Regions from separate parts of the Homo sapiens genome. Here region 1 is linked to region 2. Evidence: fine-mapped QTL for protein levels in blood plasma. Region 2 holds a variant in brackets. A gene starts in the other region. All regions are shown on their reverse strands. Region 1 holds the start of SCGB3A2 (secretoglobin family 3A member 2). Region 2 overlaps ZFHX3 (zinc finger homeobox 3).

What was found. A credible set is the group of variants that fine-mapping cannot tell apart. PIP is the chance, under the fine-mapping model, that this variant and not a neighbour inherited with it causes the effect. Protein levels are from antibody-based Olink assays in UK Biobank. Linkage for the fine-mapping came from a reference panel and not from the study's own genotypes, which makes the PIPs less certain.
Region 1: it holds the start of SCGB3A2, and the variant in region 2 is the best candidate, but not a certain one, in a credible set for the plasma level of the SCGB3A2 protein (UK Biobank, PIP 0.60).

What each region holds. Positions count from the first base shown.
Region 1 is chr5:147,874,885-147,883,223 of GRCh38, reverse strand. It overlaps SCGB3A2 (secretoglobin family 3A member 2), which reads right to left and starts at 4,513. Exons shown (of 3, transcript NM_054023.5): 1 at 4,366-4,513; 2 at 1,576-1,778; 3 at 1,033-1,197. The coding sequence starts at 4,420. The coding sequence ends at 1,174. RefSeq lists an enhancer at 7,681-8,339.
Region 2 is chr16:72,930,027-72,938,365 of GRCh38, reverse strand. All of the region lies in intron 3 of ZFHX3 (zinc finger homeobox 3), which reads left to right. Among named protein-coding and RNA genes, the nearest start is that of ZFHX3, 110 kb to the left of the region's middle. RefSeq lists an enhancer at 1,542-1,836. The variant G/A (reference allele first, on the strand shown) is at 4,902.

The DNA.
Region 1 (8,339 bases), not on the chromosome of region 2:
GTCATTTCCAGAGACTTCTCCCTAATACAGAGCCAGAAAGGGTCATACAATAGTTTTCCTCTTTTCCTACTTCCTATCTACTGCCTGCGCCTCCCAGGGGCAGAACCTAGCCCAAATGTCAGCTGATTTGGGAACCTGAGAAATGCAAGCTGCAGCAATCAGTATCATGTTTCCTGTCCTGCCTCAACACACAGCAGAGCAGAGCAGAGCAGAACAGGGGAAGTGGAGGAAATGGACCTGACAGCAAACAGTCCAAAGACTGACACAGGCCAGGTCTGAAGGTCGATGGTGGCAGACATTCTAGGTAGGAAGAAACTTGATTTTTCATTAAGGTGTAAGAGTGTTAGAGGGAAAAGGATTTAGTTATCTGTTCAGTGTGGCTGGAGTAGAGCGCATGTGAAGAAAGGAATGTAGATAAGAAGACTAGACGTGTAACCAAAAGCCAGATCATGAACAGCCTTGCATGCCATGCTCAGAAGCTTGAAATCTGCTCTACAGGCCGTCATGATATTACCAGAATAATTCCTTGGAAAGATAATTCTGTCATCACTGTAGATGACAGAGTAAAGGAAAGAAAAGATAGTTCATCACCCATTTGCCTAAGGATGATGTAGTAAAGGCCTAACTTGGTGGAAGGATTGGTGAAAGCTATTGAGTGGCCATAGCTTAACTACAAACTTAAGAACTAGCATTCTAGTGAAACAGAAGCCAAACCAATGAAGTTAGTAAGATGCTAGTCTTATCAGACAATATTTTGAAAATTATTTTTTCATTTTTTAAATGTAAAAATTTATTTAGGATGGGGGATAGGAAAGTGAAGGGTCTGAAAACACCGTGAGATAAAACATTTGGGAAAAATAGAGATGTTTAAATTAGAGATAAGGAAAGGAGAAGGAATGATTATGTCTTACTTAAGATTCCAGGTTTTCTTTATAAAAACAGGCTCTCTCGAGTTTATGAACCAAGGGAAAACTAATCTGGATACGTCCTTCTGAATAGAGTCCCCAGAAATAAAAATAGGACGACTGAAAATGTATTCATTGCTTTATTTGTCCTTTTCACGGGTCACTACATTTTAGGGCATTTGATCTATAATTGGTAGAACAGGTTTCAGGCAGGGAGGATAGGAGCATCATCTTCCATCCCCATCCACCTCCGCTCTTTATCTTGATGTCACACCAAGTGTGATAGCGCCTCCTGAAATGTAGAAGGACAACAAAATTTAGAGCAGCTTACATGTAATTCGCATGTTTCAAAACATATTCACTTCCAGTGTCCTGTTTGGCCACTATTTTACTGATGGGGAAACAAAAACTCAGAGTGATTACGTCTCATCCAAAATCACGAAGGTGGTAAATGGTATTGTCACAACTATAACACATGTCACTATCATTCAAAAACCCTTCCCAGAAATGTAGAAATTGTATTTTTCCTGAGATTCCAGGATGTGCAAACTTCCTATGAATATAATCAGTAAAGTGGAAATGCACATTTACAAGGGACAAGAAGAGGAGCTAGACATTCAGGGTGAGTATGCCTCCCCTTTGGCAGATTAGCCTCCCAAGCTGTGGTTACCAGCAGTTTCTTCACAGCTTCAGAAGCCTCTGGTCCCAGCTCATTTACACACTTCCTTAGCCCCTCCACAAGGTGCTCAACAGAAATGCCCAGAGTTTTCAGAAGAAGCTTTAATGGATCCATAAAGGGAAGAATGTTGTCCAGAGGTAAAGGTGCCAACTTGTCAACAGGAAGGGGCACTTTGTTGATGAGGAAGGCAGTAGCTGCAGGAAAAAGAGAAACCAGGTGAGACAGGCACATCTGGGCCCAGACTATGACCTCATCTTCTTTCCCTGTGTCCATCAATAGCTCCATTCCAGATCCACTCATCTTACTTCCATTGAAAACTTCTACCTCTGGCCCTTTGCACCTGCTGTTCCATCTCCCTAGAACTTTTTTTCCTTAGCTAGCTACTTACCTTTCTTTCTCACATTATTTGGTCTCTCTTCAAATATTACCTCCTCGGAGAAGCCTGCAATGGCCATAGTCACTCTCCGTCATTTATTTTTTCTTACCATTACCTAAAAAAAGCAACTCTTCATTTGCTGTTTTTATTGTCTTTATTTTCTCATTAGAATGGAGGCTCCATGAGAACAAGGAATGTGTGTTTTTTCGCTAATGCACCCATGCCTACAACTGACCCTGGCAGCGTAAGCATTCAACAGATCATTGTGATTGTCTGAAGGCGATGGTATTTTGTATGTGACTGTCTCCACAGCTCACAGCTTTGAGGCTAAAGGAGAGATGCTATAGTGAATCTCCACATAAAGACAGGAATGGACCCAACCACAGCCCAAGAAACTGCTCCCAACCAATTCAACTCAACGCTACAAACATAATTGAGCACCAACTCTATCTAGTCTGTGCAGATACATAGACAAATAAGACAAGGATGCCCATTCAGAGACTTCACACAGTCCAGTTGGTGATAGAAGATCTGTGTATGCCACAGTGTAGCATGTGCTATGCTAACATTATGGACAAAGCTCCATGGAAACACAAGAAAGGGATGACTAATTCTAACATGAAAGAGTGCTGCAGGAATTTTCCAGAAGTGCTGTTAGAGCTATGTCTTGAGGCAAATGTCAGGATCATAAGGTAAAGAAGAGGAGAAGCATTTTAGAAACATGACCAATAAAGGCACGGAACCATTAGGATAAAAGTGCATACACAGGATGGTGAGCCTTCTGCCCAGAAGGCTGGAGTGCAGATTTCCAATAGGCTATGACCAAAGGATGGAAGATAAAGGGAGTGAGGCTGCAAAAGTTGAGTGAGGTCAGATTTTTTAAAGTGTTGGATGTCACACAAAGGAGTTTGGATTTTTTTTTCCTGAGGGCAGTGGGGCGCTATCAAGGCTTTTACATAGGAAAATTACGTTTTATATCTTTGGCTTTAGGAAGATAACTTTCCCGTAGAAGATGAATGGTGGGAAAAAGTAGAGATTGAGGAAAATATGTACGATGTATTTTTTACAAAAACATGTGCAGATATATAAATGCACACATGCATGTGAGCACACACGTAAGAACACACATCCTCCTACTGGCTAAGACCTGCCATAGTTTATTTTCCTTTGGAAACCTATTATTTCCCCATTCAAATTATTAAAATGGAGCCTGTATATATTTTTTTAAATTTTCAATCACCTATTGTCCCTCCAAAATTCTCACCCAGAGGGGGCGGTATTTATTTTCCCCACCTCCTTTCTGCTGCCACTTTGCCCATAGATACCTGTCCCTGGACATTAGAGAACAGTGAAATATCCAAAACTGGTGAAGTTACAAATTCCTTCAGAAATTCAATAAACATCAAAAGCCAAAGTTGCCATTGTAGGTGTGGGCGGCAATCAATTTTTCATTATTAATCTCCATACTTCTTATTTCAGACATTTTGGTAAATATCTTCTCTGTATGTGTTTACAGCTTCCTGGGAGAAGATCTTCAAAGCCTTCTGTTCTCTCAATGAGCAGTGGCTATCATGAAATCTCTTTTTCCCATGTGCCCACACTGTCTTCCTGATAGTTACAATGATTCCTTCCAAAAAAATAAATCAGTTCCCATTCTCCTCCAAGAAGCCAGCTTCTATACCCTTACCTGAAAATTAAACTAATCACCCACCAATACACTAAAAGAGTTCTATCTGGATATCTCACAGTACGTTTACAGTAGTCTAGAATTATAGTAACTTAGGCAGAAGCCCTATCTATCCTACCAGAGTAGCACCTTAAGAACAATATTTATGACTGCTTCATGTCTAAATCTTCCAATGCCTATCCAGTGCCCAACAAATTGTAGCCATTCAATAAATATCCATTGAGTGGATAAACAGATGAATGTAGCTATCTCAGGAGAACCAAGCTAGCAAATTGGATAACTGGAGATGATAGCAAGAATGACTCCATATAGTTCAAAAGCACAAAAGAAATTATAAAGTCAAATTTTAACTCAAAATTGAGGAAAATAAGAAAAACGAATGGTGACCAATATCCAGCAGTGAAATGTGCTTTGTTGACCCTCCGTGGAAGTTGGCTAACTTCCTATGTAGGATGTATTAGAATACTTATATTGGGCTAGAGCTTAGATGGTGGGGATCTGAAATACTTTCCAACATCACCATTTTCTGTGATTCCAAAACTTCTTCCAACCCTGCAAATATGTGCAATTATTATGTGTCAGTTAAAAGTAAAATAAAAAAAAATACAATTCCTACCACCATATTCCACTGTCAGTGAGGCAAGGCTTACTAGTTGTGCTCTTATTAACAGAAAAGTAAAGAAATGTCACATATTCCAGATGTATTCCAGTTACTTACCAGAGTAACTACAAAGGCTGATGGTCACCAGCAGGAAGATAGTTACCAGCTTCATGACAGTTATCTGGGATATTTTTCAGGAGTTTAAAAATCAGAAAAATCTAGCAAAATCCACCAAGCCAGTGGTTCCACTTGCCATACAAAGTGTGATGGCTGCTTTTGCACACACATATTTATATGCCCATTGAGGACCTGAATTCTAGTCCCTACCACTTGACTCACCCCACCAAAGAAAGGGATAAATGTTATGTTTTCTCACCAAACAATTTGGAGGGTTTTCCACTTCCCCGTGTGTTCCCATGAGAAACAAAGCTCTACAGTACAGCATTCTCAAGTACCTCTTGCATAAACCCTTGCACAGAAATAAAAGCAGAAGGCAAAGAGCCCAACGAATCCTTCTCCTGGAAGAACATTGAAAAGAAGTGAAGAATTTATATTTGGATTAGAAGGAGTGTTTTCCTCTGGTTTTCTACATTTTTCCCCAGTTTTCTAATCATTTAAAGTTTGGAGAATCACATTAGCTGATGAACTACCCAGTTGTGAAAGCAATCTGGAGGCCACTCTGGTATAATACAGAGTCAGCTTCATGACATTTAGTGCCACATTTCTCTGGAATTCACCTGCCCCCAGCCCACTCACACATCTACTATGGTAAGATTTTCACACCTCTGTTACCTTTTCCAGTGTCAGTTACTTTGAGTATGTTCAGAGCATGTCTTCTCTGAGCCTTTGGATAGAATAATAGGCTTAAGATCTAAAATCAGAGTGTCTTTTGAAAAACCTGGGATTCAATTTTCACTGTTTGTGTAATCTTGGATTTGACATTTTTAATCTAGGATATTGGTCCTCTCATCTAAAATGGGAACATAAATAACACAACCAACCATAAGGTGTGTAGCTTGGGGAAAAAATTGTTTTTGCAAGATTCTTTGGCAATCAAATCCGATAAAATCATTCAAAAATACGTAATTGTAAGGTACTGGCTACAGGAGTAGTAATTTGTTTCCAAGGCTGTCTTTCTGGATCCAGGGTTCAGCCACAGGACCTCAGGACAACTTCATTTGTGAGCAGAAGTCCTGGAGTTCTTTGGGGCATCGAGTGGGCCCGACATGCAAGGAAGAGGGTAAGAAAGAACCATGAAGGGGTGAAATAGAAAGCGGAGTCCATATGGGCACAGGACCAGCTCAGGGCTCCCCGGCCACGTGGTACTGCTGGCTCCAGCCATTCCCACCACCAAAGTGGAACCCAGAAAATTTTGAGAAAACACACCTTAAGATGTAAGGCCAGAGGTTGGGGCTTTATTTGTCCTCATCTGAGGGTGTGGTATTGTAATGAAGATCTAATAAAATTATGCAGACAGAGCATTCTGCTATGCCAAACCAAAATTAATATCTAATTTATGTCACATTTTACTAATTTTTATGTTACCATGTTGTAACTGTCATTTCTTTATCTTTCTGCTACTTTATAAACTACTTTATAAACTACATGAAAGACACCATGAATGCCTGCCATGCACCTCAATCCTGCCACTTCTCCTTCTTTCTCTACCAGTACTGCTTCCATTTCTCCCACATATTCCCACTGATGCCAGTGATATTAATATACCAAGCCCCTCAAAGAGCCAAGGTTGGTGGTAAGATTGATGCCGTTGCCGGAGGAACAGGGTCCAGCTGCTTGCTCTCGTGGTCCAATGATGAGATACAGGTGAACTGGGAAAGAAGCGAGTTTATTTTTGTAACCAGCCACAGGGAGAAGGTCGGAGTAATTTACCAGACCAACTAAAAGTTATGAGTTTTTCCTTTAGTATATATAAATGAATTTCAAGCTCTATGCCTATATGCAGGAGTATTTCTACTTAGCCTAAATCTAATCTTTAACTAGTGGTCTGTGGGCTGGAAAGTTTCTTAATTTTACATGGGTCCTGGTATGGTTTGTATGTGCATGAATGCTTTTATCACTCAATCAGGTTTGAGGATGAGAAAGCCCAGGTAGGGTCTTAACGGGTTTGTTTCTGCATTCCAGGTCTCCTACTCAGGCACCAGTTTCTCTAGTTCTTCAATGTTTAACTTACACATTCATCATTACAGCAAAGGGCTTATGGAGACTTGGTTGCTTGTGGAGATCCAGCCTGCCACAATGACGCCCTTTAGTTTTTTATTATGGTCTCTTTTGGAATACTAAACCAGTGCTGCCCTCAAATTTGTTTGCTTGCTTTTAAATCCTTTCTCTTCACTTTCATTCCTGGCTCTGTATTATAGAAAGTTGACTTTTTAAAATGTGGTTTCCAGGCTTCCTTGCTTCCAGGCTTCCTTGCCAACTGCATCTGATTAAGTTAAGCCAGGGGAAGGCACAGGTGAAAGAGTGGAGAGAGAGAGAAAAGGAGAAGGGATATGTCTCCCTCTCTCCAATTCAGGAGCTATCATGGGTAGTGGCTGCACCCTCTCCAAGGCTCATCTCCTTTTGGAAAGGTCCTTTATCTGTGGTTCCCCCTGTGCCACACAGGCCAACATTGTTCCAGCTTTTACTGCATGGCCCCAGCTCCTAGACCCCACCTTCTCATCACTGTCCTTCCTGACCTAGAAGGAGTAACAACTTTCTGCATTTTCTAATCTCAGAGTTGATTCATCTTCTGCTTGGTTGCTTTAACTGCATTTCTAGCACTTTGTAAATTACCCTACATGTTGAATTCTTTCTGTGTGGTCACTTGGTATGGTTTTAACTTTTTGGCTGGACTCTGACTGACACAGCATCCTAAAATATTGTAGCGCTTTCAATAAAAAATAGGTTTTCCAGTTTCTAAACTGACTTCTTATAAAAGCCAAGTTATAAATCCATGAGGGATAGGACCGAGGCCTCCTCAGGTGAAATATAGCATTATACATGCAGAAATGCTTCTCTCTTTTAACCTCTGAAATGATTGGTACTGTATCAGGCTTCTCTGCTGGTCCTAGAGGGCAAGTTCTTTCCAGGAGATTCCTGAGACCCCTGGGCAAATAGATTTCTGTTGGGTCTATCTAGTAGTCAGCCAGCCATGCAGTCTTGACTGGAATGTACATGAAAAACATCAACTCAAAAGCACCCACAAATATCCACATACATATACATATATGAATAGTAGTATGTATGTGTGTGTACATGCAAATCATATTATGCATACACAGATAACCATCAAACACTATTGTTTTCACTCATTTGTTCAACAAATGTTTATTGAGTATCCATTGTGTCTCAGGCACTGTGTCAGCAATTAGGACTAGTGCAGAAAACCAGACAAGCAAATTTCTTGCCTTCCTGGAGCTGACAATGTAGTGAGATACACAGGCAAGAAACATGTAAACAAACAGAAAACACTAGTGGTTAGTGCTGTTGAAGAAGCAAATAGAAAGCTGTGAAAGACAACAAGTGGATTGGGGGTATGCTCAGAATTGAAAACATACTTGGACTTGTTCACTTCTGGGCTTCCTATGTTTTGAGCCACTGTATTAATCATGTCTTTTAATTCTGTATTTTTAACGTTTTGACCCCTTGGGGCCTTGCTGACCTTGAAAGGACTGCCCTTCCCAGGACTAGCTAATTCCTAGAGATATCACCAGGAGCATGCCTTTCATATGCAAATTAACCAATCCAGAGCCCAAAGCCCCAACGACCTTTATTGGGCTTGTGCACTGTGGGCCATTATTCCCATGCCTTAATCACCCCATGACCAACTAGGGACAGCCCCAAGATCCCAGAGCCCACCAAAATTATTCACACTAGCCCATTTAAAACCTGCTTACCCCATCTCTCCTGTCTTCCTTCAGAAACCACAATAAAGACTCCTGCTCACATTTTCCTCCACTCCATCTGTCTCTTGAATAACCCTGGTGCTTCCCGTGTGCCTCCAGCCCCATGGTGTGTCATGGCCCCTTGTATTGGGATCTGAGCACACTAAAATCTCTTTTCAACAGCAGTCAACTCCTGATCTGTTCACA
Region 2 (8,339 bases):
ACAGCTAATTAATCCAACAGATGTCATTTTAAGTGCTCATTTCTGTGTGATTTGGTTACACACGCCCTGCGTTGCTGAGATGGGCACGGGGCCCTGTTGGAAAGTATCTTTTATTTTTTAATCAGACTTTAAGGAAGAGCATATTTCCTGTCCATCTTTTATGCTCTAGTGACATATCCCTGGTTTTCCAGAACTGTCTCTCCAGCTGCTGTACCCACACACGGCATCTCTGCCCCACACGGGTGTCACACTGTTTGGCACCACGCTGGTCTCTGCGTCATGTGCTAGGTGGTTTCACCAACTGGTTCGTAAACCTCTTGAGGACCTGGATTGCCTTCAGTTTTGTGAGTTTCTCAAGAATGCAGCACAAGTAGACATCAGCAGGTGGTTATCCGTTTCTCTCCATTTACTCTCTTGTCTTTACTGACAGCAAGTTTCTTTGCAAGAAAAGTAGCTGAGGAGTGTCTGAAAGGTGTTGTTTTACAAGTGGAGGGTTAAGAAGTATAGGACACCAGTGATTGTTGGAAAACTGAAAAAGTCGTGCATAGGACAAACAAACCAAAAAAAGGCTCTTGGAGGCAGAGGAGGAAGGTCAGGAAGTGAGAGGAGATGGTGTTTTCCTTCCTTCCCTCTGCAGTGGTAGAAGTGGAACAGAGAGGATGGAAAGGTACTGCCTTCTGCAGGTGGCGTGGGAGCAGCTGCGGGGTGTAGCATGGCGGTGGCCCTGAAGCTGGCAGCCTGTACTCATGGAAGTCACCTGGTCCTCCATGGGGGCTGGCACCCAAGGCCCAAGGCCGCATTGCCCAGCAACCCCTCACTCTGAATCATGCCCACTCTGGGAGTTGACTCACCATGTCCCCTCCCAGTTGCTGGATCCAGAAGTGACACTTTTCACCACTAGTAGGACAGGTCGCCAGTGGTTTCTGTGTTGCTGACTCTGTCGGCTGTGTCCTAATTCGCCGGACCTTTCAGCCGCCTTTGCCACTCTTGCCCTTTGTCTATCTCTGTTGGCTTCTCTTCTGTGACTTCACGATGAGTGTTATTATGCCCCCAGGCTTGTCCCAGAGCCCCTTCTTTTTTCTGTCTGTAACTCTCCCTAAGTATCTCATTCAGTCCAGTGGTTTTAAACCCCATCTACTTTCTGATGACATCTGAATCTGTCCCTAGCCTAGGCCTCTTCCTGTATCCAGCTCCCCACCTGGCATTTGCATTCGAATGTCTGAGAATGAACTCCGCAGGCTTAGCATGGTGCAGAAAGGACTCTGTGACCAGAACCCCCAAATGCTTATGGGCTCCCCCATCTCGGTTAGGGCCACCTCCAGCATATCATTTGCTTAACCCAAAAAGCTGGGAACTATCTGTGGGGCTCCTTGTCTTTTGCTCCCCTACAGCCAAACCATCAGCAAGTTCTGTGGGTGCTTCCTTCAAAAATACATTTGCACCACCACCCTCCCAGGCCAGCCCCCATCGTCTCTCTGTATTTCAACTCTCCCCCGCCTCTACTCTTGCCCTTTACAATCCCCTCTCCATACAGGGATTTTACGAAGAGGAAAATCAGGTCATATCACTCTCTTGCAAAGACCCCACAAAGGCTTTCCACCTCACTTAAGATAAAAGCTCACCTTTGTACTGTGGCTTACAAGCTCCTTTGTGATCTGAACTCCTCCCACCATGCTGACCTCATTTTACAACCCTCTCCCCTTTGCCCCCTACACTGCAGCCACAGCAGCCTTCTCTGTTCATTCAACATGCTAAGCTGGCGCCTGCCACAGGGCCTTTGCACTTGCTGTTCTACTGAGTGTATGTACCTCCTTGACCTTGACATTCAGCTCTCATTCAATATCTGGTCGTCAAAGAGGCTTTCCCTGACAACCCAGTCTCAAGGAGCTACACCATCACTTCACTCAAGATAACTTCTCTGCATTGACAGTGATTATATTTATTTTTCTTGTCTGTTCATTAATTTAGTTGTCTGCCAAGACAGCAGAGACCTACGTTGCCCCATTAACAGCTCTGTCCCTAATGCTTAGAACAGTGTGTGACACCAGCTCAATAAATATTGAACCATAGGGTACCAGCAGAGCATGCCGTGCTTCTGCCCTGTGCTAGAACAGGTACAACAGCCTCATGCGCACACTTGGCATTTCATAAGGTAGAGCCCTAAGGCATATGTTGGTGTAAAGTGGATGGCTTGTGTGGACCAGGTCATTGCAGAGCTTCTGCAGCCCAGGTCATTTACCATCAGCTTCACACACAGCTCTGTTCCTGTACTGACCCCTGAGACACAGCCCTGGCAAGATCATGCAGCTGGTGTCAAATTACTTTGAAAATTCCCACGTGCTGCTGGCCACCCGTGAGTTTCGGCTCTGTCCGCCCAAATTCTGCCAACTAAAATCACTGCTCTTTCTCCCCAGCACTCTCATCAAAATGCCTTGTTCCTTTCCCATTCTTATGATAGACCATATTTTTAGTGGTCTTTCTTCTCTGCTTAGTTGTAAGATCCTTACCGGTGGGATCTGTTTATTCTCACCCAACTTTGTAGCCTTCCCAGGGTCTTGGGGATATTAGGTAGACTATCAGCAAGTGTCGCCTGATGATTTGATGGCAAAAGATGGATTTTTTTTTTTTTTTTAAGACAGAGTGTCACTCTGTCGCCCAGGCTGGAGTGCAGTGGCGTGATCTCAGCTCACTGCAACCCCCCCCTCCCGAGTTCAAGCGATTCTCAGCCTTCCGAGTAGCTGGGACTACAGGCACATGCCACCATGCCCAGCTAATGTTTGTATTTTTAGTAGTGATGGGGTTTCACCAAGTTGCCCAGTCTGGTCTCGAACTCCTGACCTCGGGCGATCCGCCTGCCTCTGCCTCCCAAAATGCTGGGATTACAGGTGTGAGCTACCGCACCCGGCCAAAAGACGGAATCTTAAACATAGAAATTTAAAGATTAGGGGCAGCCCCGAGTCGCCTCCTCCCTCAGTTTCCCTAGAGGCTCCTCTCCTGCTTTCGTTCCCTTATCCTTGGGCGAGCGTCTTTGTCTGAATGATGCTTACTTAGTCCCATATCTGATTGTCCCCCGCCCTGAGAACCACATTTTTGGTGGCAGAACATATTCCCAGTGAGAGAAGCTCTGACCTGCTTCTCTCCTCCTGTCCCATGTACAAGCCACACGTCCTTGAGCACCCGCTATGCGCAGGATAACGTCCTTGCTTCTTTAGGGCAGTGACTTTTAAACTTTGTTGACGATAATCTAAAAAGAAATGCATTTTACATGAGTGACCCAGCACATACATATAGCTAGATATTCTGTATATTTGACTAAAACAGAAATTGTGCAGAATGATTTTATCCTTACTGCAGGTGCTACATTCTGATGCTTTCTATTACATTCAATTCTGTTTTGTTTTACAAATGCTGGTTGTACTCACAGCATGGATTTCATGATCCCCTGACATGATCCTGATTTCGTAATCCAGCGACTCTTAGCCCAGGGGCCTTTAAAAAACTACGCCTGCCTGGCTTGACCCCCAGAGGTTGTGGTTTCATTTACTGTCGGATTCTGATGTGCGGCTGCAGTTTGAGAACCACTGCACTAATGGGTCATGATCCACAGTTTAAGAAACTGTATTACTGTGATACGTAATACAAAGAGGAATTGATCATTCAGTAAGAGCCGTCAAATGCGGACACAAGAGTTATGAAGGTGAAGGGAGGGAGCAGCCACACCCAACTGGTTAGATCCAAAAAGACCTCTGGGAGGGAGGGGCAAGCTGGAGTTTGAGCAAGATTTAAAGAGGGTAGAATCATATAGAAAGGTGAACTAGACAGAGGACAAAGGCAGATTCATTCTTGTACTTACTGAACCTGTGGCTATGGTACTAAAATAATTTTAATAACTGGAACTTCTTCTCACATACTTGTGGATACTACTCTGTTTTATTTTTTTGAGAGAGTCTCGCCTTGTCACCCAGGCAGGAATGCAATGGTGTGATCTCAGCTCAGTGCAAGCTTCGCCTCCCGGGTTCAAGTGATTCTCCTGCCTCAGCCTCCCAAGTAGCTGGGATTACAGGCGCCCGCCACCAGGCCCGGCTAACTTTTTTTGTATTTTTAACAGACACGGGGTTTTACCATGTTGGCCAGGCTGGTCTCGAACTCCTGACCTCAAGTGATCCTCCTGCCTCAGCCTCCTAAAGTATTGGAATTACAGGCTGAGCCATCACGCCTAGCCTACTCTAACTTTTAAAAGAAAGCTGTGGCCGGGCGTGGTGGCTAACCTCTGTAATCCTAGCACTTTGGGAGGCTGAGATAGGTGGATCACCAGGTCAGGAGATGGAGGCCATCCTGGCTAACACGGTGAAACCCCATCTCTACTAAAAATACAAAAAATTAGCTGGGCGTGGTGGAGGGCACCTGCAGTCCCAGCTACTCGGGAGGCTGAGGTGGGAGAATGGCATGAACCCGGGAGGCAGAGCTTGCAGTGAGCCGAGATCGCGACACTGCACTACAGCCTGGGCGACAGAGCGAGACTCTGTCTCAAAAAAAAAAAAAAAAAAAAAAAGAAAGTTGTGAGCTAAACATTTCATAATAACAACACACTGGAGTTTGGGTCTTTTTAGTGTTTTGCTAGTCAGGAAGTCTGCTCACGTGATCTATTAAAATAATAAAACTACAATAAAAACCCATAAACAAAAAGAAAACTGTAGTTGAGGCTGTGCATGCTGGAGTAGGGGGAGGGGTGGAGTGTACTGCTTCTGCAGTTTACTTTGGAATGAATAAAAGATGTAAGGCACATTGATAGCAGGATAAAGAGAAGGCTGTAAAATAGACAGCAAAGCATTAATTTCAGCAGCTGGGTGGTGGATACTTAAGTGTCTACTGTATGATTTTTTTTTCAACTCATCTCCTTG[G/A]TTGGAGATGTTCATAATGCAATGTGAGGGTAAAATACTAAAACCTAATGGTGAAATGTTCTCTCCTCTCTCGGCTCCACTGTGTAGAAGCTTCGAGGTCTCTTCTCAATCCCTGCTGTCCTCCCCTCCACCTTCCTACTCCTCTGGGAGAGTAGTAATGATGATCTGTTGTGTCTCTGAAGACAGGGCTCAGATTGGTTATTTCTGTTTTTGCAGACGAGGGCATACATTTCACTAGAGGTAGTAACATACCTGGTTAAGAGCGCTCAAGCTACTGCGGGAGAGGCCATGGAAATCTAATGGGATCTGACCATTCAGGAGGTGTCTGGATGCCCACGAGATGCCGGGCACATGTTGGTGTGGCAGGTGGAGTGGGGCTCAGTGGGTGCTGCAGACTAGAAAAATTTAAGATAGGATGTCCATGCGTCTTAAAGGAAACCCAGATAGCTCTTGGGGTTTTAAGGAGGGAGAAGATGCCTGGTGTCAGGCTGCCTGGGTTTGAATCCCAGCTCCTGGGACTTAATTCCTGTTTGTTCATCATCTGTAAAATGGGCTAATAGAATGACTTGCTTTGATAGGACTCTCGAATGACTTAAATGAGATAATACATGAAATGCACCTAGACGCAGTCTGCATATAGCATCAGAAAGGTGTTAAGGACTCTGCTTTTCTGCATTAGATTTCCCATCGTCTTCTTAGACCACACAACTGACGTTATTTTTATAATTTGGTTTTAATTAGCTTTGAACTTGACACGCTGTTGGTTTGGAGAATGGAAAGGTCAGTGGATTTTTTTTTTTTTTTTTTTTTTGGTGCGGAGCAGGGAGATGGAATTTCCCTGAAGAGAGATTATGACCGATGTTTAGTGAAATGACCTTGAGCCAGTAATTTAACCTTGGCCAATCTGTAGTGGCCTCATCTGAAGGAGGTGGAGCTTGGATTCCTCACTAAGTCTCCTTCAAGCACTAAGTGTGTGTTTGTAGGACTTTTTTTTTTTCCCAAAGGGATATCTCCATCTCCTCTCCTAAGTAATGGAGCAAAAAGTGATCTAGTGAAGTACTCAGGAAAATTAGAAAGTGATTCAAGTCCAGCTGCATTGTGGCTATGGCTTGCTCCACCCCTTCCCTGAGAAGTACCTAAGACATCATCCGTTGTGAGAAGGAAATGATGTTACCTTCACTGACATAATTTTATCATATTGTCCCACATAACCTGGGAGGTTTCAGTATTTGTTTGTTTCTTTTTAAATAGGACTTCCTGCAAGCATCAACACACATGTATTTCCCTTATGTGACCAAAATTAGATGCAAGTTAGAACGTAGGCTTGGAAACTGGCATAGAGTACACAGGACACTCAGGGGAACTATACTCCTTGGTAGTTTTCATTCCCTTACATGTATATTTTTCTGATTAAAGCTAGTGCATATTCACTCTAAAAAAATAAAGCCACAATCTAGAAATACACAGCTTAGAGGACAAAGATGGAAAAACGAGAATATATTTGACTTTGGTTCTTGTTATGGTTCGTGTTTGTATCTGTTTACATTTTGTAACCTTGGCAATACCACAGAATATCGTAAAAGGGGGAACAGCTTCTGGACGCAAGTGAGTGTTAGCTGGTGTTGCAAAGCTCACATACCCTCGTTGCATAAGTGAGTTCATTTGTATCGAAAACCACAGTGTCCGTGGCTCGGATGACTTAACATTGCCTTAGGAATCTCACTTTAATGTTCACATCAGTGTCCTTGCTTGTGGCTGTATCATCCCAATCTCCCTTCACTGTAGGGAGCACCTGCAGTCAAGTATGCAAAACTGTTTCCATGGCAACCCTTTGTTACCCATTAATTTAAAATATTCCAAAATTTTTCTCCAGCTGAAACTTTTTTTTTTTTTTTTTTAAATGGTGCATCCCTCCTCTTCCCTGTCGGTACGTTGGAAGTTAATCTCCTTGGCTACTGAAGTCATGATTGTTTTCTCCCTTCCCCCGACCTCTTTTGAAAGCTGAAGAGTGTGTGTGTGTGTGTGTGTGTGTGTGTGTGTGTGTGTGTGTGTGTGTGTGTAATGAAATAAATGGCTAATCCCAGAATCTCTGATTACAGCTCTGAGTCAACAAGTGGGAGGAAATGCCTCCCTTCTTGATTTGAAAGAAGGAGAACTTAATGCGAAACCGTCTTTAACATCTGAAACGATGTGCGAAGTATGTGCAACAGAAACAAAATCTCACCAAGCTCATGACCTGCCTGATGATTAGATGCATAAGTGGATCTGGAAAGTATACTTGAAAAACAGAGCAGCTCTTTGTAATGTGAATGGTGAATTGAATGGGTACTAGGAGGACTGAGTTTTGGCAACATACGTTTCATGCTGGTGTCAAGAGGTGTATAAGAAATAAGTCCACAGCTTATGTTTGGAAACTTTCACCTATGAAATGAAATGCAAATCAGTGGCAATAAACATGTTAAGGTTGCAAATTTGAACACAAATGAAGAAATGCAAAAGAAAGTTTTGCATAGCAATACTCATTTCACGTGAGTTAGTTATTACTATCAAATATGATATTGTAACGTCCAGGATGTGGGGTACGGCTCAGTGATGGCACCTTGTACCACATTTTACATTTTATGACTGTCATATACAAGTCTTTTGCATTTCTTACGTGTAGGTAATGATTTGGTCATTTATTCTTACCAGAACCGTAATCTTCCTTATTTTGGCAATGTACAGGCATTATTTTTGTTTTCTTCCGTAGTAGGTTTTATGAGTATTTCTAAATGTATCAGTTCTGATCTGTTATTCACTATTGGCAGTGGCTGAAAGAGCTAAGTGCTGGCTGTGTTTTATAGCTGTGTAGCTTTCAATTGCTATTGTCTGCTCCATAGCCCTTTAATTTCTGAAGCATCCTTGCCATTATGTCACAAGCGGGTTGTGTTCAGATCATTTCGGGTCTTAGGACTTTGGGCCTCGAGATACTTTGCACTTATAAAATCTGTCTGCAAGAGATCACACAGAATCCATTATCTCCTTATCGCCCGTCCTCTTTTTTTTTTAAGCTTATGTTTATTTTTCTTTTTTCCCCTCCAATTCCAAATAGTTTGGCAAAGATTTTTAGGTGCAGAAGAACCATAAAGGGGTGTTTTGATCAGATGCCGCTCCCCTCCCTTGGGGTGACAAAAATGGGCGAGAAGCTGTGTTTGTTAGGAGAGTATGAAGTATATTATTTTATTTTATTTTATTTATTTATCTATTGAGACTGAGTTTCACTCTTGTCACACAAGCTGGAGTACAGTGGCAAGATCTCAGCTCACTGCAACCTCCACCTCCCGTGTTCAAGTGATTCTCCTGCCTCAGCCTCCCAAGTAGCTGGGATTACAGGCGCCCGCCACCACGCCTGGCTAATTTTTGTAATTTCAGTGGAGACGGAGTTTCACCATGTTGGCC